Homo sapiens: one gene and its partner. The protein of the gene in region 1 purifies or fractionates together with the protein of each later gene. This does not show direct contact. Each region holds a gene or a part of one and is shown on either strand. Other genes may lie near its edges.

Region 1 (16,230 bases):
GCATTTTGCCCCTGCCCTAGAGATCTATGGAACTTTGAACTTGAAAGACATGATTTAAGGTCTTAAATTTCTAGGAAGAAATTTCTAGGTGGCAAAGCATTCAAGATGAAGCAGAGCATAAAAGTTTGGAAAATCTGCAGCCTGTTGATGTGACAGAAAAGAAGAACGTATTTTCTGGGGAGAAATTCAAGCCTACTGCAAAAATTTGCATAAGTAACAAGGAGCTAAATGTTATCACCAAGACAATGGGGAAAATGTCTCCAGGGCATGTCCGAGACCTTCATGGCAGCCCCTCCCATCAAACACCTGGAGGCCTAGGAGGGAAAAATGGGTTTCCTGGGCTGGGCCCAGGGCCTTGCTGCTTTGTGCAGTCTTGGGACCTGGCGCCCTGTGTCTCAGCTGCTTCAGCTCCAGCTGTGGCTAAAAGGGGTCAAGGCCACTCTGAGGACAGTTCAGGCCATTGCTTCAGAGGGTGTCAGCCCCAAGCCTTGGCGGCTTTCCCACGGTGTTGGGCCAGTGGGTGCAAAGAAGTCAAGAACTGAGGTTTGGGAAACTCCGCCTACATTTCAGAGGATGTATGGAAACACCTGGATGTCCAGGCATTAGTTTGCGGCAGGAGGGGAGCCCTCATGGAGAACCTCTGCTAGGGCAGTACAGAAGGGAAATGTGGGGTTGAAGCCCCCCCACCCCCACAATCCTCACTGGGCAGTACCTAGTAGAGCTGTGAGAAGAGGGCCACTGTCCTCCAGATCCCAGAATAGTAGATCCACTCACAGCTTGCACTGTGCACCTGGAAAAGCTGTAGACACTCAATGCTAGCCTGTGAAAGCAGCCAGGAGGGGGGCTTGTACTCTGCAAAGCCACAGGGACGGAGCTGCCCAAGGTGGTGGGAGCCCACCTCTTGCATAAGAGTGACCTGAATGTGAGACATGGAGTCAAAGGAGATCATTTTGGACCTTTAAGATTTGGCTGCCTGCCAATTTCTCCCATTTGGAATAGGTGTATTTACCCACTGCCCATACCCTCAATGTATCTAAGAAGGAACTAACTTGCTTTTGATTTCACAGGTTCACAGGTGGAGGGGACTTGCCTTGTCTCAGATGAGACTTTGGATTTGGACTTTTGGGTTAATACTGGAATGAGCTAAGACTTTGGGGGACTGTTGAAAAGGCATGACTGTGTTTTGAAATGTGAGGACATGAGATTTGGGAGGGGCCAGGGGCAGAATGATACAGTTTGGCTGTGTCCCCACCCAAATCTCATCTTGAATTGTAGTTCCCATAATCCCCATGTGTTGTGGGAGGGACCTGTTATGAGGTAATTGAATCATGGGAGTGATGGTTTTATAAAGAGCTTGTCCCCCTTTGCCTGGTTTGCATTCTCTCTCCTGCCGCCCTGGGAAGAAGTGCCTTCTGCCATGATTGTAAGTTTCCTGAGGCCTCCCCAGCCATGCAGAACTGTGAGTCAATTAAATCTCTTTTCTTTATAAATTACCCAGTCTCAGGTATTTCTTCACAGCAGTATGAGAATGGACTAATACACACAGTTAAGGTCTGAACCCAGATTTGACTTCACGGCCCATGCACAACGTTTTAAGCACTTCGGAATTAAGAGTTGCTTTATAAATATTTAACAGTCATGTTCCTACAACCCCTACACAAAATAAAATGCACCACATATACAATTTTCTTAAGCCCAGTGACGTCATAAAATAACAGATGGCAATCAGACTGGGGCTCTTGGCTTAACAGATACTTTGTGTTACGGGTTGAACTGTGCCCCCCTCAAAATCATATTATATGTTCAAGGCTTATCTCCCAGTACCTCTGAATGTTACCTTGTTTGAAAACAGCAGCATTGTGGATTTAATTAGTTAGAATGAGATAACAGTGGAGTAGGTTGGACCCCTAATCCAGTATGACTGGTGTCCTGATAAATAGGGGAAATCTGGAAAAAGACAAATACATAAAAAGAATGCCATGTGTACATGCAGACAGAGATTGGAGTGATGCATCCACAAGCCATGGAGTACCAAAGATTGCCAGCAAACACCAGATGTAAGGGGAAACTCATGAAACAGCTTCTCCCTCACCGCCAACAGAAGGAACCAACCCTGCCCACACCTTGATCCTATTTCCAGCCTCTGGAACTGTGAAACAATACATTTCTGTTGTTTAAGTCACCCAGTTTGTGGTACTTTCTTATGGCAACCCTAGCAAATGAATACATTGTATAATTATATAATTAAAATTATATAATTTTCTGTAAGTTATTTCCACATTCTGAAACCCAGATTTCAACAGGTGCCCTTTTTCATGTTTTTCTTCTTCCAAGGCCTCTTACCAAATATTTTAAGTACTTTCTACTTCACGCTATTTGAGTTACATTATCTGAATCATGTTATTGAAAGATGGAATATATTCTTTTCTAATGAACTGCTAAACAGATAAATTATGAGTTTCTCAAAGCATAAATCTTAGCAGATCGAAGAGTCTCATTTCTTTAAAAATTCACTGACAAATGCTCCTCCAATGAGAATTAACAACTAGTTTCTTATCTAGTGCTTTTATTTGCTGCATACCTTCCTCTCTTTCCTTTAGTTCTCACTAATACTGTTCAACATAGAAAAACTGCACACTTGAGAAAAGGCCTTCTTCTTGGATTTCTCGCTAATTTGGAGTTCTTATAATGACTATTTATGGCACTAATCATCTTTGATGATACCCAATTTGCTGAAGTTCATTTCCATAATGTAATTTCTCATTTTACAATTCCACATTCAAAAATTTTTTACATCTGACTACTATTTGGCACTTTCAAAATTTATGTTTATTTTTGTGGTTCTCTTCAATTTTGAACACTTCCTTCCCTTGCTTTTATATCTCCATTGTCTGTTTTTTTTGTTTTTTTTTTTTGAGACAGGGTCTCACTCTGTCTCCCAGCCTGGAGGGCAATGGCATCACCTTGGCTCCACCTGCGAGGCTGAAGCAGGTGATCCTCCCACCTCAGCCTCCAAAGAAGCTGAGACTACAGATGTGTACCACCACGCCAAGCTGATTTGTGTATTTTTTTGATGTAGAGATGGGGTTCTATGAAGTTTCTTTAATTTTTCCAAGATCTTTCAACTTCCGCTCTTGCAGCAACCCCCTACCTCACCAACTTGCCTAATCACTATTTGGACTTAATTTGTTTTTTAATCCAACAGTAACATTTTCATTACCTTTCAGTTTTCCTTCCAAAAATATTAAAACATAAAACTGGCAAATTTCCCTAAAACCAACCTATGATAAGAATAATAGGAATTCTACTCATCTGGTGATTTTAAAAGTTCAACAAGATATGAGGTATACAAAGGCAGATGCCTAAGGTGAGACATGAAACTACAGAACTTAGGAAAACTAATTCTATCTGAAGATATTATACCAAAAATCTCTACCTGTTTTAACTTTAGTAACTGCAAATAAATTACTTCTATCTTCACCAATGAATCATTAGCAGTTTAAGGAACTGGTTGATGAAATACCCACAATATAATTTTAAACAGAGGATAAGAAGGACAAGCCAAATGCCCAGAAGAGAGTCCAGAAACAACCTTAAATAAATATGGGACCGTAATATATGATGAAAGTGGTGTTTGAAACCACTTGGAAAAAGGTTAGTTATTTAATTAATGCTACCAGGATACATAATTAGTCATGTGGAAAAAAAACTAAAAACATCAATATCACTCCTTAAACTAAAATAACTTCCACAGGAATCAAAATTCAAGTGTAAATTTTAGATGAAAATATATCTACATTCATATAGAGAGATAGTCTTTGAGAGAGAAACACCTATCTAAACAAGTAAATACAGAAGCCGTAATAAAAGATGTCAATAAGAGTATGTAAAAATCTAAGATTTCTCTAGGGCCTAATATAGACTATAAAACAAGCAAAGAAGAAACAGACAAGTGACAATGTGGGGGAAAATATTTGCAACAAATGTGCCAAATGGTTAATTACCATATGAAGAGTTTCTACAAGCCAAAAAGGAAAGAAAAACCAAAAAAAAAGTGCATAAGCAATTGGAAAAGGAAAAAGAAATAAAAATGGGCTATAAATTATTAAGTTACTCAACCTCATGGATAAAAAGTGCAATTTAAAATAATAAGATACCATTTTAATGTAGCAGTTTGACAAATACTTTAACATTTGCCAAACCCAACTTCCTCAATACTTGCGGGTAAGGAGAAACAGAGGCACTCATTCACTACTGGTAGGAGTGAGGAGTGGTACTCTTGAAGGAGTATTTGACAATAACTAAAAACAAATTTTAAAGTACATATTTGTTTCAATAATGATTGTAATAAAAATTAGGCATGATTTAAATGTGCAAAAACAGGGTCCAGGCAAATAAATATAATATATCCACACGATTCAACAGAATATAACAGTTAATGTGTAAGTTGTATTAAAACAAGGTGCAGAACAATAGGCTTAATATGATACCATTTGTGTAAATATTTATGAAAGATATAAACAAATCCTTGTATAGTCCTACATATTTTCTGAAAGGATGACCAGAAATTTAAGTTTGGTTGTCCCTCAAGTGCAAGACTAAAAAGCAGCATGTACTTCTTAAACTTTTTAATGCCACAAATTATATTTTTTATCATGTGCACTTTATTTTAAAAATAGAATATAAAAAGTAAACAGTGTAAATATTCCATAAACATTTGCTTTTAATTGAAACAATTACAACTAACATATTCAGAATATCTACTATGCGGCAAATTTTGTAGCAGGGGCTGGGTCTTCTAAGTATCAAGCTATAATAACTGAAGAATTCAACTGTCTTTCTACAAACACTTATTCTACATACAAATAGCTCTTTTTACACAAAGTAAGGGAATACTATTTTTCCTCTCACCTACTTACTGTCAATCCTTTCACATTAAGGAATAAATTCTCTCAAGACATACTTTCTTCCTTGAAATTATTTCACCCACTTTATTATCACACAGATAAAGAATATTGTTTTTATAAATTAAGAGTGATTTAATCATTAAACTAAGAATGAACTTAAAATGGATTAGGCTCTATCAAGAAATGTGGGTTCAGATGCTAGGTCCACCAACAAATAATATAGTAATGAATGGTTACAGTAAAGTCACATCAACTCTTCAAGCCCAGATTTCTTTGTACGTGAATATTATCAATTTCATAAGAGTGCCATATAAAGAAATTAAACATTTACATTCTTTGTATTCTGACATGAAGTGACAATAGGCATAGCCCATATTTAAGGAAAAAAAATACCAAGAGATGCCTATTAAAATTTAATGAGGAATATTACTATTACATTTATTTATTTAACTAAAGTACATACTCTAATTTGTAAACTCATCCTGAGTTCACTGAATTCAGTTATATTTTTAATTTCCTTTAAATATGTAACATGGAGTCTGTGAACCCAAAGGGCAAGGAAAGTTCAAGTTCAATAATATAAATGCTTGTGTTTTTTCCTATCATCCATTTCATTGTATCTAAGACTACCACACAGATTTTGTTGCCTAATTCATCTTTTTACTTCTACTTTTATCTCTCCTTCAAAGAATTCAAATTGTTTCTTGTTCCTACGCATGTCTTTTACTATGTACCACAATGAAAGTTATGCATGTACATATAGCTATAACAAAAATCAATTACAATAAAGTAACACTGTTTTCTTCCTGAGAAGATGGATATAAATGTTAAAATTTAAATTTTTTGTTTAATTTAAATTAAACATTTAAATTTTTTGTTTAATTTAAATTAAACATTTAAATTAAATGTTTAATTTAAAATTTTCTTTTCTCCAAATAAGCCAGGCAACATTATTATAGTCCATAATTCAAGACAGAATAACTATATTTAAATCCACAGAAACTAGCATGGTACTCTAGGAATACTACTACTTAGAGAATAATAAAGATAAAATTTAATTCCTCCCCATTTTTACATCAATCATTATACTATTTTCAAAGAGTTAAGCATTGCAACTAATAAACATCCAATAATAATACGCAAAAGAAGGGGAGTGGAGGATCAAGGAAAAACACTTCAAGATCGCAAGGTACATTTCAATCCACTATTCTGTCCATTGATATGAATAATGATCTATCTCGGAAGAAAAACACCCAAAATATTAAACTAGATACAATTTCTAAACACATTACAATGTACCACATACCAGTCAAAATAAATACTGAGCCTTTATGTTAAAGCTATTTCCTAAAAATTGTCTCTAAGAATAGAGAGCGTAGTTTCATTATCAACACTTCCAAATATTTCTTCTGTGTTTCTCTAACTTGATATTCAATTCTAAACTTTTGTTTTCAAACTTTGAATATACAAGGGGGGAAATAATGTATAAAAAATAATGTAAAAATACTGTAAGATTTTCCCTAAATGCATAACAAACATACGCTAAGTAAGGATTAGATATTAACGGAAATCTGAAGTATTATATATATATCTTTCACTTTTATAAGCCAAATAAATTCTATCACAAAATGTGACTTCTCTTTGAGTGAGTTAGTAAACTCTGTATTTTTGTTTTAACGTACCCATTTTCAGATTTTAACTACAACAGCTCCCTTAACTGACCTCTATTTAACTGTCTGGCCTTAGCCAACACTTTTTTTTTTTTTTTTTTGGCCCATGGCATGCTGACCATTCTTAACCAGTATGCTATTTTTTGTATTATCAGGTACTTCTGTTCTCACTAGTTGGGTTACATGCTTAACAAGTCAGTTGGTTGTTCCCAAACCTGTTTATGCCAGTTTACTTGTTATAGTTCTTACATATCTTAAACATTATTCATGTCTAATGACTACGAGTGCAAAAAGGAACAGTTGTTTCTATATACTAAGTTAAATGTAAACTAAGTAGGCCAGGCGCGGTGGCTCATGCCTGTAATCCCAGCACTTTGGGAGGCTGAGGTGGGTGGATCACTTGAGGTCAGGAGTTTGAGACCAGCCTGGCCAACACAGTGAAACCCCATTTCTACTAAAAATACAAAAATTAGCCGGGCGTGATGGCACGTGGCTATAGTCCCAGCTACTTGGGAGGCTGAAGCAGAAGAATTGCTTGAACCTGGGAGGTCGAGGTTGCAGTGAGCTGAGACCACAGAACTGCACTCCAGCCTGGGTGACAGAGCAAGACTGTCTCAAAAACAAAACAAAACAAAACAAAAAAACAAAAAAAGAACAACAAAATGTAAACTAAGTAGAATGACTCAACGAAGGTGAGTTATTCTTTTAAAGGGTGTTGAATTGGAGAAAAGTGATGTAACTGCAAAATATAAGGGGAAATCATAAAAAGTTAGAAGGAGCCTATACTTAGAGTTTTTCAAAAGTTATCTTCAGGCTTTTATTCCACATTAGAGAAATCAAAACTGTAAATAGCAAATCATGTGTGAGGAACATGAGAACAGCTTCTCCCAACTCCACAAAGAGATGGCATTAGCTCAATGTTAAAAAGTTTAAAAATGAATTTACATTTATATTTTTAAGTTAAAATTTTAGAATGTTACTTACAAGATGTATTATTTTTAAATATTCAGTAACCTACAAAGTAACTGTCCCAGCCTCAACAAATAAAAAGGCTTCAAACATTTTTTTTTCCTGAAGCCCTTAAACTGGTTTGATATACCCACCAGATAAAAACTACATGTCTATGCAAAATAACAATATGTAGTAAAAACCACAGTAAAATCACTTTATGGAAAAAAGTATTAGAATGTATATTCTACAAGGACAAGGATCTTTATCTTATCCACGGATGTATCCTGAACACGTAGAACAGTTCCTGGTATGTAGCTGACACTCAATAAATATTTGTTGAATGAAGAAGAAAAGGAACTTACTGTGATGACAGCCTTGCTAAGACAGATGGATCCTCTGCAGCCATACTCTGTTTCATCTTCAGATTTGTAGTAACTCAGAGCATTATTTTTCAAAACTACCCAACGATCCTGCCACCCATGAATGTAGTTTGTCCACTGGGAGTGGGAAGGGGAAGGGAAGAGAGAAGAAAACAAAAAATAGAAGTATTTTAGAAATCCAAACTTTGTGAAACAGCAATCTAATTTTAAAACCAAAACGTGAAAAGTCCAACTTAATTCTAAGCATAAACAGTAAAATGATTACAAAAAGTGAAAAGTTGAGATTTTCTAGATTGCATAATGATTTTCAGTAATTTTTACAATATTATAAATAAATCTGTAAGAAATAAAATATAACATTTTCTTCTAACATTTGAAGAATAAAACGAAAGCCAGATTTTGGTTAAAATTATTGTTTATTCTTCGTATGCTTTCATCCTCTCCTAAGTACCTTCATGATATTTGTTTTGGTCCTTGTCATAATTAACATATTCAACAGAGAAGTATGTTCAGTTATGTATGTAGTCTCTCATTCTGACACCAAAGACTGCATGAAGCCTTCTAAATCAACGGAAGTATAAAGTCAATTATTGCTAAACTCTACTTTTGTTGTTATTCCTATATGAAAATTTATAACAGCTGTAACTATATCAAAATAAAAATAATAATCTTTAGTAAGCTGGCATCAACTTTAACTTTTCCTCTACAGAACTGAATAATATTAAAAATGGCCAATACATTTTCCAAGTTCCTCTGAACATGCATTTTTCAAACTCAAGAGTAATAAAACAAAAATAAAATTGCTTTTCAAAAACATATTGGATTGTCTTCAATACCTTAAGAGTTTCTGTGTTGCTAAAGTCTTGCTGCAAAGTGAAGATCACAATAAACTGGAAAAGGCAGAAATGTAACCTTTACAGGAATACTTATTTTTGCATGTTTTTATCTATGCTCTGGGGTGTTAAGTATAGAAAAATCTCAAAAACTATCTGCCAATTCCAAAAACTAATTAAAAATGGATTGCCAAAATATACTGCATTGGCTCAGGCTCTATATCCACTGAGAAATCTTTTATTTTTCTGTTCTCTAATTAAGCATTTTTGAGATTGATTCACTTCTTAAATTTTCTTTTATTTAGTATTTTCTTGAGACAGGGTCTCGCTCTGTCACCCAGGATGGAGTGCAGTGGCACCATCTCAGTTTACCGCAATCTCCTGGGCTCAATCCTCCCACCTCAGCCTCCCAAGTGATTGAGACTACAGGTGTGCACCCCCACATCTGGCTAATTTTTTGTAGAAATGAGGTTTCGCTATGGTGCCAAGGCTCGTCTCAAACTCCTGGGCTCAAGCGATCTGTCTTCCTTGGTCTCCCAAAGTGCTGGGACTACAGGTGAGCCACCATCCCTAGCCAGTTCTTAATTTTTCTAAGCCCCATCATTACAACCACTCTCTGAGAACTCACCCAAGCCAACATTTAACTCATTCTAGTGGCTCCCAATCACCATTTCCTTATTTCTAACTGCTTGAGATGTACCACCACTTAGACACGGGCTTGAAATAAATGATAGTTACCAATAAAACTGAATTCACCTTCCTATAAAGTATACTTCCTTCCTATTTTCCTACTTCCTTGGGGAGACTGCTACTTCTGCTCAGAGTTAGTGTATTAGATATACAAACAGATTAGTGGATATAGGATAAAATAGGCTCAACTATTTTATAACTCATGTGAAGAGAGTTTTGACAAGTTACTTTTGTAAACTTCAGTTTCTTTGCCTGTTGACTGACGGCCGAATAAAATAATGAAAATGCCTAGCATAGTCACAGAAGATACTCAATACCTAAGTGTTCCTTCTCAATATTTATAGCCCATTACCAAAAGCTGCTCATCTTTCCTTCATAGTAAACCCTTAAATTTGCCTCCTCTTCTCATTTTCAACTATTCCAATCAAATTATCCAGTTCCTGTATTCCTTAGGAGACTTAATAATTTTTTCTCTAGTATCTTCTGTTTTTTTCATAATTTACACAAGCTTATTTACTTACTAAGCATATTTGCCTACTTTTCTTACATTGATCGTATTGAGTCTCTAGCTCCAAAACTTACATGGACAACTTCCCACTGACTGTCATACAAATTGTTTAGGGCATTCAAGACCCTTCATGGATTAATCCTACCTCATTTACAATTACCACACTTCATAAGGCTAAACTTTGTGACAGTGGTCAAGTTACTTATTCTCTTTGTGTTCTTTTTTTCTTTGTCAAATTCTCTTAGAGTTAAGTTTAAACAAGAATAGACTTAGAACAGTGCCTGGACATAGTATTTTCTGAATCTGAGGAAGAGTTATACATAGCTAATGAAGCTTAACCTTCAGCATTTCTCACTAGAATAGAACTCTTTCAATGTTAGAGGAGAAGCCCCAGCAATTATGTATCCATAACTTAATATTAGTTCTTATAAGAGACTGAACAAACTGTATCAGCTTCAGGACCCTTTACTCAGTAAGTATTAGCTGTATCATGACACCTGGAAGACAAGTTTTTTGTCTTTTCTCTGCTCTCATAATGTTCCCTCACTCTTCCCCATTTAACAAATACAGATAAGGCAATATGCTAGACACTGCAGGGGAATCAAATATTACTGTGGCCAACAGGCCAGCAGACACAAACTCAAGAGAAAAAAATATATATTTAGAATAAGAGTCAGAAGCAAGCTACAAACAAAATGCTATGGGAATTCAAGTGAAGGAGGTCTTGAATGATGGCAAAATAAGAAAAGGCTTTATGGAAAGGACAGTATTTGGCTTGGACTCTTAAGGATGGACAGAATTTCAAACAGTTTGGTGTGTGGAAAAACAGAAGGTAAACCATGAAGGATGGAGGAAATTCAGAAATTGAATGAGATTATTTTATCCAGGCTTAGGTGCTCTCAAGTCCTACTAAGGCATGCATCTTTTCCCCACCATGATCCATCACGATACTTGCTATAACTAGATAGAATTATTGTCTATCTAGTATTTTTGGAATCTATACACTTAAGTGATTTATAAGAAATATGCTTCATAGGTATTTCCATGTATTTCAGATTACCATATGGAAAATACCCTTTGAACTGGTATATTTCTAATATAAATTTACCCAAGCCCATTCCAAATCCACCCCATTTTGGGGGAGAAACAAAATGAATTGTACCGGGACTTATTTACATTACTCAATGGAAGGAAAAGAACAAAATCCGAGTTCTGACCTTTGTTTAAATTACCAGGTGAATACAAAGAATTCAAACTATATAATTTACATTTAAAAACATCTACCATACTCAGTATGAGTATATATACTCAATTTAGAATACCCTTGATTAAAAAGCTTCCAGAAAACTGTATATAACCATAAATTGGTAAATCTCAGGAAAATTTCCTTCATAGCTTTGAGCAAGAATACCAAAAGCTTTATTCCTATTCATTCTACATATGCAGCAACAGTCAAAATTTAAGCTATTCACCTTCCATAGAGGTGATCAAATACATTTGTATGCATTTAAATATCGAGATTGGTCTTCCATTTTTTTATCTATAGTATACCTACTCCAGAGCACTGGTTACTTTTTCCCCCGGTCACTCCACTCCCCCAACCCCCAAAAAAGTAATTATCAGTAGGTCAAAAGTACAATTTGTTTCGTAAAATACTTAACACATCACAATACTAATATGGCAGTCAGCTTCCCATCTTATGAGCAGTGATGAAACTACCAAAATCACTGAGAAGCAAGTAACCCACTTCCTATTACCAACTGAAAATGTATACCTACTACACAATGTGTTCAATAGAGATTCCTAAATTACAGGATACATTTAATCTAAAGAAATCCTGAGGAGCTTCTCGTTACTGAAAACCTTGCACTGAAATTTCAAGAATGATCACAGCATCAATATACAACATAATTTTGCTGCTATACAAATAAAAGTCAACACTTGCAATCCTTAGTTCTGACTACTCATGCCTTTCCTGGCCCCCTTCTCATTAGCTTTCTAGACATTATAAAAGCCTAATATGAAACAATTCCACAAATAATGTCCAAGTGATTTGCCAAATATGAATACTGGAAACAGGGTGATTTCTTAATAGCCACTGGCTGCACATGACATAGTATCTTATGACCAGCTTGTTGAGGGACTGGCCCAGCTCCCCCTCTCCAAGTTAACTGCTAGCTCCAGCCATGTCTAAAAAAGTTTAACAGGAAGGGAGAGAGAAGTCAAAAAGGCTACGTGAATCTTCTTACAGCAAAAACTTAAAAAAAAAATCCCCACAACTATGTAATATCAAGAGATCATCCACCTGCAGTCCTATAATGACTGCTTTGCTAAAATTTTGATACAGGGATTTTAAAAAATATATAAAAGATAAAACATCTTTTCCTTACCCTCGACCCCTTACCGCAAAAATATTTTATTATTAAGTAATGCTCTTCCTGGACTAAAGATCAGTCTCCATTCTCACATGTTCCAAGTTACTATGAATATTTCCTGTACCCATCATGTGCCGATTCAATATCTCTATTCTGAACTAAGGTACAGGGTGAGGGAGAAAGTCCTCCACATTCATCTGTCTCACTACATCTAACCTAGCAGAATTCAACACCTCAAATTTCAACACCAAGCTGAGTCGCTCCAGCTTCTGTCGAAAGAGTTGCGTCCGCAGTGCCCCCCAACCTACTCGGCTTGGCATCCTCAGAGAGACCAACCTCTTTTAAGAGGTCCGACTTGAACCGCTCCCATGCCCAGTCGTTCGGACACCGCTGAAGCCCAACCCGGATTCCTTACACCCGGGACAGCTGCCGCCCTAAGTCCCAAGTCACGGCGCGCATCTGGCCTCCCAAACTGGATCTCAGGTTTATACACCCTTTCCCTGGTCCTCGGCTGCCCCCGACGAGCCCCCGGGCAACAAGGACAGTGCCCCTATATCCCCGCCTCATCCCTAGTCGCTGCAGCAACACTCAGCCTCGCACCCCGGCACGTTCCGCGCCTCCCGCCAGCCCCACCCCACCGCCTCAGCGGATTGCCTCGCTGCAGGTGAGTCTGGCCAGGGGTCCCTTGGCACCAGGGGTTGCTCACCTTACTGAGGACCCCGCAGCGCTCCACAGGCGGCCCAGACTCCGTCTCTGGATCCTCCTCCGAGCCCGACGAGTTCCAGCTCTGATTATCCGACATGGAGGCTCGACAACCGAGCAGGAGACCGGCCCCCGCTCCCTCAGCTGCGCCGGAGGAGGCGCCCAGTCCTCGGGGTGAAGGGTCGGGGGATGGCGAAGCGAAGAGTGCCCGCTCCGGTGTGGGGGGGAGCAGGAGGAGGGACGAAGTCCGCCCGCCGCGCCGCCGCCGCGCCTGACACCGAGCGGAGCGAGGAAGGAGGACGAGCGGTGAAGGAAGCCTACCCTTCCAGCCGTCAGCCGCCGCCGCCGTCGCCGTGACCCCTGCGTTGCGCCCGGCGCTGCCACCCGAACTTAGCCCCCTCGATGCCAATTTCAAATAGGGAAGGAAAAGGGAAAAGAAGGGAAGAGAAAATCCGGCCGCTGAGTCCCGCGTCCACTCACACCTCCGCTACCGCCGCCATCTTCCTGCCTGGCCCACTATTTACCCTCCCCTCCCCTGTCCTTTCCCCTCCCCTTCGTCCTCCCATTCTCCCCCACTACTCCCCGCCCCGTCCCCCTCCCGGCGTCTGACGCGACACGCCGAGCCTTCGGGATCCTCCTCCCGAACCCTACCTCCGGCTCTCCCGGGTGACGACGGGTAGAAAAGCAGGAGGAGCGGAGAAAGGAGAGGGCGGGGTAGGGATGCAGCTGTGCTGCATTCTGGGAAGGGCGTTGGTCCGTCGCTCGCGCAGCCTCCTGGGAGTTGTAGTCGCGATCCTGAGGTAACGGGTGAGTATCCCGCGCGGGGATCGCTTGTCCCCTTGGGGCCTTGTCAGTCGGTGGGTGGGCTTCGTTTGACAGTTGCGTGACCAGCCCCTCGGCCTCGCTTCTATCCTTGCCTTGTGTGTTTATGACGAACCCTCCGGGCTTGCGGGCCCAGACGTGAGAGAGCTTTCCGCTGAAGATGACGGGCCTGCTTTCCAGGGCGGCTTGTCGAAAGCCCGGGAGCATCTGGCCGCTTCCGCCTCAACCATGGGCTGGGGTTTTGTGAGCTACTAGTGCCAAGGGTTTTCTTTCCACCAGACCACCGCTGTAAATCTCGAGGGTCTTACTCATTAGAAGTTAGAATTCACATTTGACGTTTAAAGGAAGAATTTCCTTAGTACCTTCTCACAAGCACGCACTTCGCATTTTTAGATTTCTAGAGTTTGCTTTGTAGAAAGTAATTTTGAGGTTGTCAGAGAATAAATGACGTTAGAAAGGTTTTTAAAGTAAAACAAGAATGTGAGATGATAGCCTGGGATTTTCTCTTGGTTGTAAATGAATATCTTACTGAGAACCACGTTAACCATGCCTGCCCCTCAAAGATAGGAAAGGTTGGATATATAGAAACTTTCTCGTATTAGAAATACCGAAGTGCAGTGGTTTTGTGTGTACAAGGGATTAGGCAATAGGAGGCTATTTTTGTTTTAAGACTAGGGTTGAATTAGCAGAAAGACCAATAGAAGATCTAACAACTCTTGTCAGTTGTCAAGGATAACTTTGATTATGAGACTTTGACTTTGTAGCTTCAGTAATTTCCTCTCGTTAGCTATTTTAATATAGTCGATTTCCTTGTAATTGCCAAGAGTAAAATTTGTTATTAAACCTTAGAAAGAGTACTTTCTTACTACAAGGATGGGACGATAGGAGCGAAATTTCGAGTCTAAGGGAAAACGCTGGCCGAGTGTGGTGGCTCACGCCTGTAATCCCAGCACTTCGGGAGGCCGAGGTGGGTGGATCACCTGAGGCCGGGAGTTTGAGACCAGCCTGGGCAACAAGGTAAAACCCCGTCTCTACTAAAAATACAAAGATTAGCCGAGCATGGTGGTAGGTGCCTGTAACTCCAGCTCTTTATATCCTGGTTTCAAATCTAGGCTTGATGACCTTCTCCCATATCCCAGTATCATATTTTTTTCTTCCTGCATGGGGGATTAATTACGATTCTGAATGGTTGGTAGCATGAAGCTAGGTTATCCCTATCGTGGCAATGGATATTTAAGTAGGCATTGCCAATATTTATCTTGCTTTCTTTTACTTTCTTCTTTTTCTGACCATCCACACTCCATTTATATTGATGAGTTCTTTTACTAATATCAATTATTATTATATTATGCTCATACTGCCATGTCTTATTCTGCAGCTTTGATCCTTAAGGTGACTTTGCATATCTGTCTAGGACTCCTTTATCTGTTGATTTTTACCATTTAAGTCTCCAAAGACAGCTGTATTTTTGGAAAAGTGGGAGGGAAGAGGTAGATGGGGATACTCATTGATACCTTAATGCACTTCACAGCTGCTTGAGAATATGTCAGATCTCATAAAAAGTTCTAACATTCGAGAATAAGACAGTGATTTCAGAAATGGAATTTCAAAGGGTGTGTAGGCCACCCTTTTTATCCTGTTTCCTATTGTAGAAATGAGAGCCAGGCTAGGAATGTTTCAAGCAGAAATATTCTTACTATTCAATGAAATTGAAAATGTATTCCCATATCTTTTACTCCTATCTGTTTGGTTTATGGGATAAAAACTTGTTAGAGTAGTTGGTATTTCATAGGCTTCACTATAACATTGGAAAATCTTTTAGTCTAAAAAGCACACAGTACGGTACACCAATGAACAGTATTAGTGCCCACTCTTGGCATGTACACATGTTCTTTCTGTCGTTTTTATTTTGCTTAGCTTTTGAGTCTCTTCCTGTTACTGTGAGAAATTCTTTTATTAATATTTTAAAGGCATACTATATAAAGCAGTGTGGTGGTATATTAGGTATCAGTAGAATCCTCTTGATAGTTATTTAGTAAACGTGTTTTGCTTCCTGTTTTTTTCTAACCTTTTTATTGTTTCACTTCTACTATAATTTCACATCCTTTTCTTCTTAGTCAAATAAGTTGAAAAAATATATTTTTATAGAACATGTTGCTATGGTGATAGTTTATGAAAATATACTTTATCCCTGTTTAAGATCTTTATTAAGATCTTGCTATATGATAATCTGACTGGGGTGCTATAAAAGTAAGATATAAACCACTTCTTCTGTAGATTCATTGTTTTCTAGCATTTTTCTGTCTAGGTATTCTGACAATAATTATGTGTAGAGAGTGAATAAATATTTAAAATTGTGTGTGACATAGGAGGTTTTCAGTAAATAATAACT
Region 2 (17,221 bases), on another chromosome or scaffold:
AGAAGTAGAAGCAACCCAAATGTCCACCCGCAGATAAACAGATAAACAAAACAAGGTACATAATACAATGGAATATTATTCAGCTATAAAAAAGACAGAAATCCTGTCATATGCTATAACATGGATGAACCTTAAGAGCATTGTGCTAAAATGAAATAAGCCAGTTACAGAGGATAAATGTTACATGATCCCATTTTTGTGAGGTATCTAAAGTAGTCAAACTCATCAAAGCAGAAAATAAGAATGGTGGTTGCCAGGGTCTGGAAAGAAAGGGAAATAGGGAGTTGCTGTTCAATATGTACACTGTTTCAGTCACACAAGATGAAAAATTTCTAGAGATGTGCTGTACAATATTGTGCCTATGGATGAAATTGGAGGTCATTATGTTAAGTGAAATAAGCCAAGTACAGAGAGACAAATATGTTCTCACTCATATGTGGGAGTTAAAAAAGCGATCTCATGAAGATAGAGAGTAGATTGGTGGTTAACAAAGGCTAGAAAGGGTTAGTAGGAAGGGGAGGATGAAGAGAGATTGATTAATGAGTATAAACATACACTTAGAAGGAAAAAGACCTCGTGTTCAATAGATCACTGAGGTGACTATAGTTAACTAATCAATTGTACATTTCAAAATAGCTAGAATAATTTTAATGTTGCTAGTATAATGAAAAGATCAATATGTAAAGTGATAGATATCCCAATTGCCTTAATTTGATTATATGAATGTATCAAATTAACACATATACCCCCAAAATATGCACTAATAGATCTAATACATATCATAAAATTAAATAAAAAATAAGACGTGAAAAAATAAAAAAATAAAATTGCCACCTTACCACCACTAAAATCTACTCCCTCCCCACCAAAAATACTGTACTGCACACTTAAAAATTTGTTAAAAGGGTGTATCTGATGTGTGCTTTTTACCACAATGAAAAAAAATTCAACAGATAGGTTAACAGGGTTATATACAGCTGAAGAAAGATCTAAACATATATGGTAACTATAGTATAGGTTATACTACAGATTGGAGTACAGATAAACAGTGAAATAGGAGGAAAAAAATAAATGACAGGTTAAACATGAAGGATAGAATGATAAATTTTCGCACATCTAACCAGAGTGCCAGAAATACTATGCAGAACAGAGGTAAGGTAACATTCAAAGACATAATGGTTGGTACATTCCCATAACTGATGAGACATATGAATCCACACAAGATAGAGACAGACAGAAAGGATCACACACCAAATAGCAGATGACTCCTGAACAGAAACAATGTATATCAATAGACAATGGAATACTACCTTCTGAGTGGTGAAAGAAATCAAACTATCAACCTAGAGTTACAGACTAAGCAAAGCTATCGTTTAAGAATTAGGGCAAAATATGTCTTCAGATCTAAAAAAGTTCATCACTAACAATCCTGCACCAAAAGAACTTCCACAGATATTCATCAGGAAAAGAGAAAATGACACCCAAAGGAAACAATGAGATGGAAGAGGAAAAATAATAACAATAATAATAACTTTAAAATCATGTGTCTAATTCTATATGAACTGGATTTTTATAAAAAAAAAAGACGTAATAATAGCATGTAGGTCAGAAGTGAAGTGACAAACATTAAATACATTTCTTCTTCCAATGTATTGCCCTGCACACCCACTTTAGAGACCACTGATGTGTACTATATACATCCACCACTGTTCAGCTACAACAAACAACAATATTAGCTGCAATCATTTCAGAAGTCTTGTTAAAACAATGAGACAAGCCATAAAGGATTTGTAAATTTGATATGAAGGGACAAGTGCAAGGCACTCCACACAGAAAACAGTAAAGGTTCAGAAGTAGGGATAGGGACGGCATACCCTGTTCTTCCTCTAATAAAGTATCTTATACCATTTCATATGCTCTTCTAAAATCTATTTTTTTTTTTAAAAAAAAGGGTTCACACTCTGTCACCCGGGCTGGAGTGCAGCGGTGTGATCTTGGCTCACTGTAGCCTTTATCTCCTCGGCTCAAGCAACCCTCCCACCTCAGCCTCTCTAGTAGCTGTGAATGACTACAGGCACACACCACCATGCCCAGCTTATTTTTGTATTTTTAGTGGAGACAGGGTTTCTCCATGTTGCCCATGCTGGTCTCGAATTCCTGGATTCAAGCAATCCTCCCACCCCGGCCCCACAAAGTGCTGGGATTAGAGGCATGAGCCACTCTTCTAAACTCTTTAAGACACAAACAAAACAAAAGAAAACAAAAAAACACTTTCTCGAAGTAACAGCATGAGTACAGTAATAGTGGAAGGTGTCAGATTTTCATTATTCACCTTGAAGGATAGAATTATTAACCTTGGGTAGGTCACTAAATTTTCTCTCTGAAGGCTTCATTCAGCCTCTCAGGTTGTAATACGTAATGTCTACCCTCACCAATGTCACCAATATATTTTGATGATAAATGAAAAAATTCAAAGGGGGTGTTACAGCACTGATTTCTTATATACTGTACTAGTCACTGTGCTGGGCACTGGCAACACAGACTAAGGGAGACAAAGTCAGGCAATTAGATGCTATGTGATAGGTACTGTGACATGTGAAGGATGCACAGAAAATCCAAGGATAGTGACAAAGGTATGCTTTCCTCTCGCTTCTTCATGCCATTAACAATGATTCTCAAAAGACAAACTACTGATGGCAACCTTAGTTACAATAGGTAATCATTATAATCACCGCCATGAATTTCAGTATGTCACAAGACTCAACATCGAGTCTTTTTTTATTAAAGGCTTTTTAGTCTAACTGAATTCAATTTTAAAACATTCCAAGAAGTAGTCAAAAGAGTTTTCTTCATACTGATCAAAATTTCATCACAGAAAGCTAGGCTGAGCATTTTTGACCCATTAATAATTAGCATAATCGGAGTTTTTCCCAAATACTAAATTTTTTTTCTTGTTTCATTAAAAAACATGTAAGAGTAATGATAATATATTATCTATATCCATGGTGGAATTATCCAAATAAAATCTAACAAAAGAAAAAAAGAGAAATCTTTTTTACTCTTTTTCTGGACTTACTGTTTATAATCTAAAATCAAACACATTTTGCATAGATTCTATTATCTGCAACACATTTTTTTTACTTTACTACAAAGTGTTTATTGCCTTAAAAGTTAATCATTGGTTGTCCTGTTGTATTTAGCCCGTTGAGGCCTATTAACAAGGCACACACAAATCTTTCATCAAAGAAAATACTCCTGAAAAAGTACACATAGACTGTTCTTAGAGAAAAGCAATTCTTTCTCATTCTACTATATATAGCAGTAGTATATAAGAGATCAGTGCTATAATATTCCTCTTTTGGGATTTTTATTTATCCTGAATATATATTAGTGACACTGAGAAGGGTAGATATTATATATTCCCAAGGACACAAAATCCAAATACGTTATATGGATGACCAAAGAAATGTTTATATTAACTGCAAACGACAACGAAATATCAAGATGGTGTTTTAAATTACTGTATTTGTTGATTTTAATTTCTAAGGAAAATAAAATGTTTTTAGTTAGTGTCCTTGATATACCAAAGGACTTAGAACCCTTTAATAGTCATATGAATATAAAAGTTTTGTAACTATTTTTAAAAATATGTCATGTAATTGAAAATGACTATAAACAAAAATACATTTTGGCTGCCATACTGGCATTAATATATTAGCTAACAAGCAGGCTTGTTACTTTATTTCATCGATGAGAAGTAAAAATGGATGATGCCATTTACTACCAACTAGAGAATAAAGAGAGTCACCAATGGTGATTTCGTAGCCATCAGTGGTGGCCTCTTTGATAAACACCTATAACACCTATAAACCAATTTAGCCCTATTTACACAATGTCTTCTACCATACATTACTTGTTTGGGATTATTATCTCTTCTGTAAGCTCCTTGCAGGGAGAGACTTTATCTTAAACACTACTTCTATATCCCCTTCCCAACCCTTTACCTAAAAAATGAACATGCTGAGTGCATACTTATTAATTGACAGGTGTCATATAATAGATATTTTCCACAGCAATTAGGAGAAAATAAGGTGTGGGTAAAGTAAGCTAAATGGAGATATCATTATGTACAACACAATAAGGCACAAGACCATAAAAGTGACTTTGAAATAACATGTTCAGAAACAGCAAATCAGTTTATACAGCATAATCATTTTCAGAAGGTACTCACAACAAAATTTATCATACTATTATTGCTTAGCTTTAAAATCCTTTTTTGTGTGTTCTTACATGAGAAGCTGCATTTTGTGCTATTCCTTAATGCATATTTCTATAATTATATCTCATGTCTTTATGAAGTACCTTATTCATACAAGTATGAGAAAAGCTATACTATTCAAAATCTAAAAGAAAATAAAAACAATGTATTTTTCCACTCCTCCTGGGTTAACACATACAGTAATTTGCTAATAAAAACAAAGGTTATCATCTGTCATACTTTTCATTCACACTCTTGAATGACAGGCATTTTTTTAATGTTCCTGTTAGAAAAATTCTGTGCCAACTCGGCTTTAAAACCAACTCAAACCAAAATATCCATCTTTTTCTCTGAACTTGTTCAATCTCTCAATCAAAATTATGTATCAATTATATTTTCTAAAATAGTTATGATGCAAATGAAGTTCTAATTTATGATAGCAGCAGCCTTACACTATCTTTCCCATTTAAATGCACGGCGCTAGGGAAGACAAAAGCATACTCTGAAACATCTTCACAGGTCCTCTAACAATGGTCTCTTAGTAGAATTTCTTCTCTCTTTGTATAGTTATATTAAATTTCTGTGCTTCCCTCCTAAGATGAAATCATCTGTTTATACCCCTCCAACAACTCAGAAGTGAGCTTGTATCCTTTCTCTCATGCCTTTTGTCTAAGAACACCAAAGCGCTTCGTTATTTTATTTTACCAACCCCATGAAGTCAGTGGTATATCAAAAGCTGGACGGCTGATGAGATAACTAGACAGAGAGCTCTGGACAGCTGACCAAAACTTAGTACCCCTCTAGGTCCTTAAAATCAGTCGGAAAATCAGCCAAGCCCTATTTACAGGTCTTGAGTGTTTTAAACAAAAACAAAAACAAGAAAACCTTCCCACAAAGGAACTTGCACACACACACACAACTGTACTTTTCAGAAGGTGGAAATACAAGGGATCTTGTTCTTTTCGTTTTTCAAGAGTTTAAAAGCCCGGCACATCTGCATCTTGATAACAGCTCCAGAGGGCAATCTGATCAAAGACACAGAAAATCCCTCCTTTAAAGATGTGCACCTTGTGACACTCCAAGGAGGAGAGATATTTAAAGTAAAACCTGCCCTGCATCATTATCACTGACTTAAGGAAGAGATTAAAAAGCCCTTGGCTTCATGTGGCTTTTCAACATTTTGCTGTAACCCCAGGGCCATAGATGCTGTTCGTGAAATTCTTCTACTCATCCCTACTAAGAGTGTCACAGCAGTATAAACTCATACACAAACACGCACACATCTCCACTTCCATTCCCATCCTTCTCGCTTTGGTGCCCATGACCCAAAATGTGGACACAATGTTACAAAAAGCAAAGTCATGGGGCAATGCGGGGGGAGGAGGGGAGAGTGCAAAGGATTGAAAGATCCAGAAAAGCAAGAGTGTGAGAGGTAGCCGGCTCGTCTGCTATTGTAAAGCAAGCATTCATTCGGGTGGGGGCACAGAATGCAGAGGTAGAAATAAAGCAATCCTGACTGCCCACTCTGCCATCCCATTCTGCTTCTCTGCCCTCCATCACCCCATCCGCCCCTGGAGGACCACCTCCGAGCGAGAGGGCGCCACTTACGGTTCCCTACCCTCACCCTTGAGGGGAAACAAGCGAAATGGGGTTGGAATGAAGAATAGGGCTGAGCAGTGGGTGAGGGTCACGCCGGGCTCCAGGTGGAGACCCTGCCGCGGGTGGCCGCGCCGAGGCACGGGGGACGGCCCAAGCGCGGGTGAAGTGGGGATCAGAGGAGGGTCTCGCCCCCACTGCTCCCGAGGGAGGCTCCGGTTACTCACATTTTCCGTGTCCCGCTCGTTCACCGTCGGCAATGGCGTCCGGGCCGACATTTTGTGCGGGCAGCGGGGTCTGGCCGGGGTCTCGCCGGCCGGGCTGTGGTGCGGGCCCCGGGGGGCGACAGGAAAGGGGTGCGGACGCGAGCACAAGGCCGGGGCGAGCGGCTCCCGCAGGCCGCGGGGCGGTGCAACAAGCGGCCCCGGCGGGGGAAAGAGGGAAGAGGACGCGGAGGAAGAGGAGGGGGAGCCGCTTCCCGCGGCGGCGCCGCCGGGGTATGCGGACAGTAACGAGGGAGGGCTTCGGGCGAGGCGGTTGCCCGGCGCTGGCGGGGCGGCGAGGCTGGCAGGATGAGGCGTGGAAGGGGAGCCGGGAGGCGGTGGCGAGCCCCGCTAGGCTCTCCGGACCATGGGTGAAGGTGAAGCCGGTGCCTCAAATCACTGCCTGGCTCGTCCTGGCGAGCGCCTGGGCGTCAGGAACCGCGGCCCTGACAGCGTCACCCGCGCCGCGCCCCGTTCTCCGCCTCAGGTGTACGGCGCCGCCCGACCCAGCCGCATCCACGCGCCCGGGGCCCAGCGGCGGCGGCGCCCGATCCCCCGGCGCGAATGTCTCGGCTCGGTCCGCGCGGTCACAGCCACCGCCGCCGCCGCGCCTCAGTCAGGAGGAGCGGCCCGAGCCGGCTGCGCGCGGAGCAGCGGGCGCGGCACGCAGCGCCCAGAGGCACTTGGCGGCCGCCGCCGGGTGGGCGGGCGCCAGCCGAGGGGGCCTCTCCATTCATTCCCTCATTAGGGATGCGGGGCCGCCTCCTCCTCCTCCTCCTCCTCCTTTTTCTCCTCCTCCTCCTCCCGCGCTCTCTTGCCCGCCTGTCCCTGTGTTTATTTTTGTTTCGTGCCCCACCCGCAGAGTTTACGGTCGTCTAAGAGCCTCTGGTGGTTTTATTTTTATTCGTGTTTGGTTTTTGCCGGGTTGAGGGTGAGAGAGAGCTGATGTGAATCAGTGGCTTTTTTTTTTCTTTTTCTTTCTTTCTGTTTTTGTTTGTTTGTTTGTTTGTTTGTCCGTTTCATTGGAGAAGAATTGGATTCAATCCTACCCTGGATCCTACCCCTCCTTTTCTCCTACCTCGGGACTTTTACCATTCTTAAATTCTACTCCTCCTCCCCCGTTTCCACGCTTTCTCAATCCCTATCCTCGCCTGAGCCCTCTGTCAGTCTCCTTCTCTAGGGAGCCGTTAGGTTCAGGGTCACCCTCAGAGTTTGGCAAAAAGCACAGAAGCCCCTAGAAGCGCCAGCAGCCTAGGGAGGCGGCTGGAGACTCAGTACAAGTGGGTCTCAGCCCCCGACGGCGCGGCCTCTTCGGGAATGGGGCCGGCGGAAGACGTCTCGCTCTGGGCGCCCTGCAGCACCCTCGGAGTGGGTGAGACCCGCGAGTCACAACATCTACACTGGCTGATCGTCACTTCCTGGGACACAAGGAAGTGTCACTTAGGCGAGCCTGTTTAGGGAGGATGGAGAGCTGTGTCTGATTTGGGCCCTGTCCTCCCTCTTCCAGGTGGCTTCCTCACACTTCCACCCACCTGCCTCAAGACATCCTGTAGGCACCCGCGTCTGTAGTGCATTGTCCAGGACCCATTCGCCTTTTATAAGCAAGGCTGCATTTTTTTTTAATCTCATTTGAGAGCTTACATTTTGCACATTCAGCCTGTAGAACGAAAACCTTATCGTCTCTCTATTCTTCTTTGCAACATTTCTTTTTCACTTCCTTTCATGGATGGGCAGGAAGACAAAAGGAATGAAAGATAGGAGCGGATACATTGATTTTCTGAGCTGCTTCAGTATGCCTCCAGTGGAATTCTTATAATGGTGGGAAATTTCTCGTCTCTTCTGAATTTCCTCCATTTGAAAGAAGAATCCCTGAACCAGATGGTTTTTATCCTGACTCATTAAAGGTTGTTTCTGAAAAGTTAACACTTGACCCTTGAAGCATGGGTCCAAAAGACCTGAAAATAGCAAACACAAAAATCCTTTGAGGAAAGAAGCAATTCTCACCCAGTCTATATTCACTTCTAGAACACCATCTGTGTACTTATTTCTTTAGCATTTTCTCTTGTAACCACTTACCAATTTCACAAAGCAAATGAAAAAAAAAAAAAAAACAAGATCCCTTTGGTGGTCATCACCACTTCTCAAACAGAATTTAGGCAGCGGAACTGCAATGCTGCCTCCTGAACTATGATGTGTTACTGAGAATGTCAAGCATTTACGTGCCCTCTGCAGAAAATCCTGAATCACCAAGATACATTGAAGTTGCAAGGGCATAATCCTGTATTTTTCTGGTTATTTTCTGGTTAACTATTGCGACGGCTGCCTGTAGGGGCTGCCATCACAGTGTCAGCGGCATCACTGACTGCTGCAGCCACACAAGGGTACCTAGTGTTGCAATAGTACCTGAGTTAACCTAGCAATAAACAAGTAGCTGTGAAAAGGCGTTCAGCCCCATTGGAATATGAATCATTCCTTCAGCTGGTAGTATGTATTTTGCTCTTTAAAGTATACTCACATATTTTTCTATCTTTATAATCGTGGTGACCCTGACAGGCATATTTATTTCCATTTTACAAAATTCCACTAAGTTAACTTGTTCAAGATCACAGATGCACCAGGTTAATAAGATACAGAAGAAGATAACTGAAATATGTGGTGCTGTTCAATCTTGCACCAGTCACAAAAACCATAGGTTCACCCCATAAGATATAATGGCTAATTCGAGACAGAGCTTAAAGGAGAGCCCCAGATTCTGGCACAGTGGCTTCCACAGATTTTAAAGTGTCTGTTAAAAGCCATGGACAAATCCCTTAGCTATATTTGCTACACAATGCTCACTATTTCACATATTGAAATTTACGGAATATCACATAATAATAGGAAGGGATATTTATTGTTTAAGTCAATCCCCAAGAACACTTCTAACAGTGAAACTACATTCAAAGAGAGTCATTACTAGGTAGCTCGAATCCATAATTCTAGCTAGCCAAATTGTTTTTTTGGATAGAACAATTCTATCCAAAAGAAAATGCCATTCAAATAATCCTTATTAATACCTAACAATTTTAAGCTTGGTATGTAGTGAAAACTAAGTGAAAATGCACTTTGCCCAGGTTAAAAAAAAAGTCACTATGTTTTTCAAAAGGAAATACTGTCTGTCCCTATATGAGCTCTTCTCCCCTTAAAATGGCATTAGTAGATCCTTAAACATGGGAGAGGAAAAAAAAATGACATGAGGCATTATTGTGATGGAGTCAATACTGTTTAACCCTAGTCCTTAGAAATGAAAATGCTCATGAGCAAAATTTTTTTGTGTTACTATATATAGCTTCTGTGTCTGTGACTATGGAGAAATGACAAAGGGAATATTTTAAGGCTTTGAGTAATTTTTTTTTGGGTTATTAACCAAATGTGGCATGTTCAATTCACAGGTTCCTAACTTAATGTGTTAGGGTAATGAAAGTTTTGGAAGAAAATTGAAGTACTGACAAAACAAAAGGGAAATAAAGATCTAAAAGGTGCTAAACCTACAGTGAAAAGTGGGAAAAGAGCATTGCCTACCGTCAGCCCTATGGAGTAGAATTTTTTAGAACTACCGGGTCCAGTACCAGTTACATGTGACTACTGAGCTCTTGACATGTTGCTTGAATTTTTAATTTGACTCAATTTCAAATAATTTACACTTAAAAACCGATTTGATTCAGTGACTGAAAAAATTGTGTTATGTTTGAAAGTATGTTAAGTATATGAATCTACTTTTTCAACTGTAAATTTTCTGAAATCTATATACCGATTAAGTATTTCTCATGGAAATGTATTACCTGAATTGGGATGTGCTATAAATATAAAATGCACACCACATTTTCAAATAGTAGGAAAAAAAAGAGAGTAAGATGTCTCTTTATAAATATTATAACCATTTCATATTGAAATGCCAATATTTTAATATATTAGGTTAAATAAAATATATTATTAAATCATTTTCAACTGTTTCTTTTTTACTTTTTCAAATGCAGATCCTAAAAAATATAAACTTACATATGTGGTTTACATTACATTATCTCTCTGTTGGACAGTACTTCTCCATATGGTCAAAGCTGAGAATAAAAAGGCTTAGTTGCTTAAGAATCAAAGGCCTTGATTATAAGCTATTAATAATTCATTCTGTGGTAGAGTGGCACCCAATAAATGCTTGTTGGGCACCATTCTACCACATGCCATGCTGTGCTGTTCTAGGGGAATATTCTTCACCTAATAGTTAGCGGCAGTCAGTCTTACGCATTCTTTTTAAAGAGCAAAGTGGAAAACATGTTGAATTCATACAAATGAGCATTAACAGATTGCAGTCATTTGTAAACAAAGAATTTATCAAATGTGACAGATTCAGCAGATTAATAGTAAACTCTTAAAACTGCACATGTCTTTATATCATGTGCTTTAGATGTATCCAATGTCTGATAGACTTGGCCAGTCAATAATTATTTGCATACTTTGTTTTAGGTACTACAAGGCTATTTACAATCTTTCATTTAGCCACACAGGAAAACTACAGGATAGACAGTTCGGTAAGGTAACAAAGAGCAGTCTCAGCTAAAGAGAAACAAGGTTAATGTCCATCAGGAAAGAATAATCAGTCCTTGTCACAAATAAACTGGGTCCTGATTGCCTGCCTGTCTGGCAAGGTGAATTTTTATTGTGTCAACATTCACTACTTAAAATATAGAATCACTGAAATGGACAAGATCCTCAAAAGAAACGATATATCGTATTTTTAAAACTGCTTAAAGCTGTTGCCTTTTACATTGTATATATTGTCATAGAAGGACTGAAAAGTCCTTGTGATAATTTAACTTATACTTGTCTTCATAGCCATCAGCATATACATAAACTGTCAGACCCAGCAAGGGTCAGCTCAATGCTTTTTTTGGTTATGCCACTCCACACCTCACAAACATAACCTCCAAGAGTTGTTTACTCTTCTGTTTCCCACAAGCACTGTAGGTTCAGCGATGTTCGTTTTCTTGGAATTCCCCGAACACACCATATTGCTTGACTCCTCCGTGCATTTGTGTCATCTGTTCTGTCTTCCTGGAATGTCCTCTCCTCTTTTCTGCCTGATGGCCTCAGAGTTGGTCTTTAAAAACCTTCCTTTAGAAACCTATCCTGACACCACTGTTTCTCCCCACACCCACAGTTAATTAATCACTCCCTGTGCACTACCTCTGTACCTTGGACATACCTCTACTGTTGCTCTCCTTGCACTGTGTACCTGGCTGGTCCCCTATCCACCTGTGCACTAGGAAAAGGAAGGGAATATGTCTTATTTATTTTTGCCTAGAACCTAGCACAGTGCTTAGCAATTAGTAGATGCCCAATTTCCTAAATGACTTTTATTGACTTGTATGTTCTCCTGAACTTTCACATTCTTTTAAATTTCTAAGAAGCATCATTGAAAATATAGGAGAATTGAAAATATAGGAGGATAATTAAAGTCTACAACTGGGGGATATAAGAGTTTACATAGTATGCAAAGTATCTTCCCAGTAAATGTTATTGACTGGGTAGCAAAGTGACTCTATTCTGTCTCCTACAGATTACCATAGTGCCACTAATTTTACTGCTCTGTGATTTTACTGTAATTATTCATTTTTATCCATACATAGGAATTGCTGATCATTGATATTTCAATAAGTCTTTTAAATGAGTATCTGCATAAACCAAGGTGTACTGTACTTGGTCAGGAGGAAACACTTCAAAAGTAGGTTGAAAAATTAAAAATGGAATGACACGACAATGAAGTGCTAGAGGCAATAGAGCTGGCGGTCAACCCCAGGGAACAGTCATCAGAAATTGGGTGACTCTTCCTAAGTGAAAGCCTTTCAGCAGACTGAGCGTCACAGTGTCACTTGGCAGTGCAAATTGGCACAGCAAAACAAAGAACAAGACACATGGAAGTTACTATTGCGGTGAGTTATGCACTGGTCTTTAGCAATGCTGGAAAAGTGCAGGTGAAAATCAACATTCATAGCGTGATCTCAAAGGAACAATGGTTGCATATGAGTTCATAAATGTATCAGTATAGATATACCCACATTATTGTACCTTCCATACTGTAGTTTTGTAAAGTCACATAGAAAGCAAAACAATCTCTTAAAAGTCTTATGGTAGCCTCCCTAAAGTAGGAGCTTGGTTGTCTTTTACTTGGCATTTGTGACTACAAATTACACATAATGTAGTTCAATGCCCTTTTAAACAGGCTTGCAATTTGAGTATTTGATTTCCTAGATGACACACTAAGTGAATTGTTCCCTCATGTCTTTATACTTACCTTATTAATATAAAAATGTTATTTTTGTAGGTTCTTTTTATAAACTCAATTTATTCAATGCCTTCAAATTATTTTTTCTATGTTAAATGTGACATCACTTAACATTTTGTTGATTTCTTCCTTTTCTACATAAATACACCATTTTTCACTTTGCTTTTCATTCATTCATTAATTTAAAAATATATAGCTCTGTTAATGTAAGGGACTATTCTAAGCTCTTCAGAAACAGCAGTAGACGAAATAGACAAAAATCCCCACCCACATGAAGTTCACATTTTTATAGGTACTTTCAGTGTCTAGACAGTTCAAAACCAGAGACTCCCATTATACAAATAATATTTTGTTATGTCTTGATTATATTACTCTTTTAACAAACACAAGCACCCAGGTTTAACTTTTCTAAAAAAATTAATGAATTACAGCAGCTAGATCTATTCTCCAATCCAATTATAATTTGCTTTCTGCCTTAATATTTTGGCATTTCTCCAATAAGCTTTTGTATAAACAGCTTCAACTGGTTCCACAACTAGCTTAGGTACTTGAAAACCATAATAAAGATGCCTTCCTGAGCAGGTGACTTATATTTGATCTACATTTCGTAATATTACACCAGCTTTATTATATTGACACCAGTACACTTACTACATTTCAACATTATGAACTGCTTTATCTTCAATAACTGATAGTTTTCTATTTCTGTTAGTGCTAAATAATATTTTTGTAGTTCAGCAAAAAATCATATAGTAAATAGGAGTCTACATTATAACCTAAGCAAAAGCCTTTCAGCAGACTGAAACCATTTAATCAAATGTGAGATTATCCAATTTAATTATCAGTGCAGCCCATCAAAGTTGATGTGTAAACTTTATAACTCTGTAATAGTAGAAACAGCTTTATTATAACTGTTTTAGCAGTACTTTTTTTTCAGATAAATAAACAGTTTTGGAATACTCTTTCCTGTCCATTTCATAAAAACCAAGCTCCCTATTACTTTAGTAATATATTCTACTTTTCTTTAATAGCTCTTATAATAATGACTAAAATAAAGCAATTGTGAATGTTCAGTCCAATACCGTGTCTCTAATGCCTAGCACAGTGCCTAGCATATGGGAGTTGCTCAATTAAGCAGATGAATGGATAGTAGATTTAATCATGTGTCTGAATTTGAGCATATGTTTTCAGATCCTGGATTTCTTTCAGATGATTTTAGTATATTACCACTCATAAGCGAAGAACCCAGGTTAAGTGTCCTTAATCTTTCCAAATTGACCCTCTATAGTCACCCATTGGGCACTTGCCATCCATTGCTTAAGAACTCAATTGCCAAGACTCCCATATTAACTTTTTCCACTATTTACTAATATCTTCCTTTTCTAGCACTAAGACAAACATCTAAATTTCTAAAGTTATAAATGTGTCCTTTTAAAAACATTACAATCATGGAATATGCATCTCAGAAGATTACCATGGCTAGAATCCAGGTTTGTTTACATATGAAAAAGTATATTTCATTTGTAATATTTTTAACCATTCTTTTGTTATCTACTTCTGTCATATCAAACTCTTAACAATAAGCCACAATCAATTGCATACTGTTGAGCATGTACTATGAGTTCTGTTCTATTCTAAGAGGTGCTAGGTATGAGGTATGATGCTAACATGTTGCAATTAATATATATATATATATATATATTTTGAGATGGAGTCTCGCTCTGTCTCCAAGCTGGAGTGCAGTGGTGCGATCTGTGCTCACTGCAGTCTCTGCCTCCCAGGTTCAAGCGATTCTCCTGCCTCAGCCTCCCCAGTAGCTGGGATTACAGGCATGCACCACCACAGCCAGCTAATTTTTGTATTTTTAGTAGAGACGGGGTTTCACTATGTTGGCCAGGATGTTCTTGATCTCCTGAGCTCATGATCCGCCCACCTCAGCCTCCCAAAATTTTTATATAAATACAACAAGAGTTGTATGCAAAACTTGAGCTGAGCTTTCAAAGTAGTCACTCTGAGGAAGTATATATTTAATACAATGATGTGATGGTACACTTTATGAATTTATTTTGCAAGAGCTCTGGAACCTGTAGTTTGATGTTTTGTATATTCTCAGGGGTGGTAAATCTTTGTCTTTTGATGACTTATTTTTAATGAAGTATCTGTTTGGAAACAACTTTGATGAACTGCATGGATAATTAAATTGGATAATCCCACATTTGATCAAACAACAGAAATGTAATAGTAAAAACAACAGTATTTTCTTATGTTCATCAAACTGGATCATTCCTCAAAGGAGCATTTAAAACAATGAATGATGACAGCCTCTTTTCAAGTATAAAATCTTGAAAAGTAACTATTTTAGGATATGTACTAATTATTTTACAATCATTTCTACAGGTGGTCATATGGTGCATGCAGTTGAGGAACATGCAGTCTTAATAGAGTAACATGAAAAGTTAAAGAACAAAATACAGTGTTAATTGGTAACTGTCCAAAGGGCACTAGCGGCAAAGGAAGATAAAGAAAAGGCTTCATACAGAAACATCAATGTATATCATCATCGTCTTTATTAAGAGCTAAAGTTTATGTGGGTTTTCTAAAGTCTTCTGTTTACATCATCTCCAGTAATTCAGCCTAAAATTCTTATAAACCAACAAGTGTTCTTAGTCCATTCCCCAAAGAAGAAACCAAGGCACAAAAGGTAAAAAGGTTTGTCTTGTAGCATATATTCCATGACAAATGGATCTGGAAATCCAGGCCCTCCAGCCCTGAACCCAGGCCTCTTTTCATTCATTTCTGGGTCACAGGCACCTGCATAATGATTGCTGACTCCCACATCCATATCTCCCTTTTCTTTTCGTTTTTACTTTTAAAAACCACTGTAGTCTTCTGAGTATGAGAACATTAGTGCAACAGAGACATGGAGGGGAGTGTTAAGGACATAAAAATATATGAATAAATGTTGTGAACTTATTCTGCTATAAATGTCAAATAAAATCAGGTCTGGCCATAAAGGCAGGATTCAGGACAAACTGCATTGTGTAGCTTGCCTGATGTTTTTATATGGATGAAATCAGATTAGAATTAAGACAAACAGCAAACTAGAAATAGGAAAGAAATAGTAAAACTATGTAACGTACAGCCTAGAGAGTATGTATTGGAGGGACTGGTAAGAGGGAAAGGCACCTATATGCCGAAGTGGAGAGAAATTTTGCCATGTTGATGGTTGGGAGAGAGCTTGTGGACTACAGACATACTTCAGAGATATTGCAGATTCAGTTCCAGACCACTGCAATAAAGCAAGTATCACAATACAGCAAGTTACACAAACTTTTTGGTCTCCCGGTATATATTAAAGTTATCTTTACACTATACTTATCTATTAAGTGTTCAATAACATTATGAATAAACAAATAAGGTACTTAACTTAAAAATACTTTGTTGCTAAAAAAAAAAAACCACCAGATTCTTCAGCAAGTTGTAATTGGAGCCTTCAGCAAGTTGTACTCTTTTTGCTGGTGGAGGGTTTTGCCTCCATGTTGATGGCGCTGACTGATCATGGTAGTGGTTGCTGAAGACTGGGGTGGCTGTGGCAATTTCTTAAAATAAGATAACAACGAACTTTGCCACATTCGTTGACTCTTCCTTCCACAAAAGACTTCTCTTTAACAGATGATCCTGTTTGATAGCATTTTACCCACAGTAGGACTTTAAAAATTGGAGTCAATCCTCTCAAATCCTGCTGCTGCTTTATCAACTGTGTGTATGTAATATTCTAAATCCACTGTTGTCAGTTCAGCAACATTCATAGCATCTTCACCAGGGGTAGATTTCATCTAAGAAACCACTTTCTTTGCTTATCCATAAGAAGCATCTCCTTATGCCTTCAGCTTTTATGATGAGGTTGTAGTAATTCAGTCATATCTTCAGGCTCCACTTCTAATTCTAGTTTTCTTGTTATTTACCCCACATCTGCAGTTACTTTCTCCACTGAAGTCTTGAACCCCTAAATTCATCCATGAGAACTACAACCAGCTTCTTCCAAACTCCCCTTAATGATATTTTGACCTGCTCCTATGAATCATGAATATTCTTAATGGAATCTAGAAGGATACATTCTTTCCAGAGCTCTTCAATTTGCTTAGATTCATCAGAACAATCACAATCTATGGTAGCTATAGCCTTACAAAATATTAATATACCTCTAGGCTTGAAGGCCAAAATTACTCCTTGATCATGGGCTGCAGAATGGATGTTGTATGAGCAGGCATGAAAAAAAACATTAATCTACTTGTACATCTCCAGAAGAATTCTTGGGTGACAAGGTACCTTCTCAGTGAGCAGTAATATTTTGAAAGGAATCCTCTTTTCTGAGGAGTAGGTCTCAACAGTGGGCTTAAAATAGTCTATAAATCATGCTACAAACTGATATGCTGTCATCCAGGCCTCGTTGTTCCATTTATAGAACACAGGCAGAGTAGATTTAGCATAACTGTTAAGGGCCCTAACTGGTATTGGCTTCAATGTAAAGTCACCACCTGCATGAGCCCTTAACAAGAGAGTCATCCAATCCTTTGAAGTTGTAAAGCCAGGCATTGCCTTCTTCTCTCTAGCTGTAAAAGCCCTGGATGACATCTTCCTCCCATAGAAGGCTATATTTTCCGCATTGAAAATCTGTTGTTTCATGTAGCCACTTTATCAGTGATCCTAGCTAGACCTTCTGGATAACTTGCTGCAGCTTCTACATCAGCACTTGCTGCTTCACCTTGCACTTTCACGTTATGG

The links.
Region 2: the proteins of CERT1 (region 1) and MARK1 purify together in Homo sapiens (affinity purification with mass spectrometry; 2 studies listed by BioGRID and IntAct, with this or other methods). This does not show direct contact.

What each region holds. Positions count from the first base shown.
Region 1 is NC_000005.10:75,498,092-75,514,321, forward strand, and holds the start of CERT1 (ceramide transfer protein), read right to left. Parts: upstream 13,539-16,230; 5' UTR 13,415-13,538; coding exon of another isoform or gene 13,117-13,414; coding exon 13,021-13,116; intron 12,979-13,020; exon of another isoform or gene 12,683-12,978; intron 8,026-12,682; coding exon 7,891-8,025; intron 1-7,890. UniProt on the Homo sapiens protein: Shelters ceramides and diacylglycerol lipids inside its START domain and mediates the intracellular trafficking of ceramides and diacylglycerol lipids in a non-vesicular manner.
Region 2 is NC_000001.11:220,517,734-220,534,954, reverse strand, and holds the start of MARK1 (serine/threonine-protein kinase MARK1), read right to left. Parts: upstream 6,820-17,221; 5' UTR 6,133-6,819; coding exon 6,082-6,132; intron 1-6,081. UniProt on the Homo sapiens protein: Serine/threonine-protein kinase. Involved in cell polarity and microtubule dynamics regulation. Phosphorylates DCX, MAP2 and MAP4. Phosphorylates the microtubule-associated protein MAPT/TAU.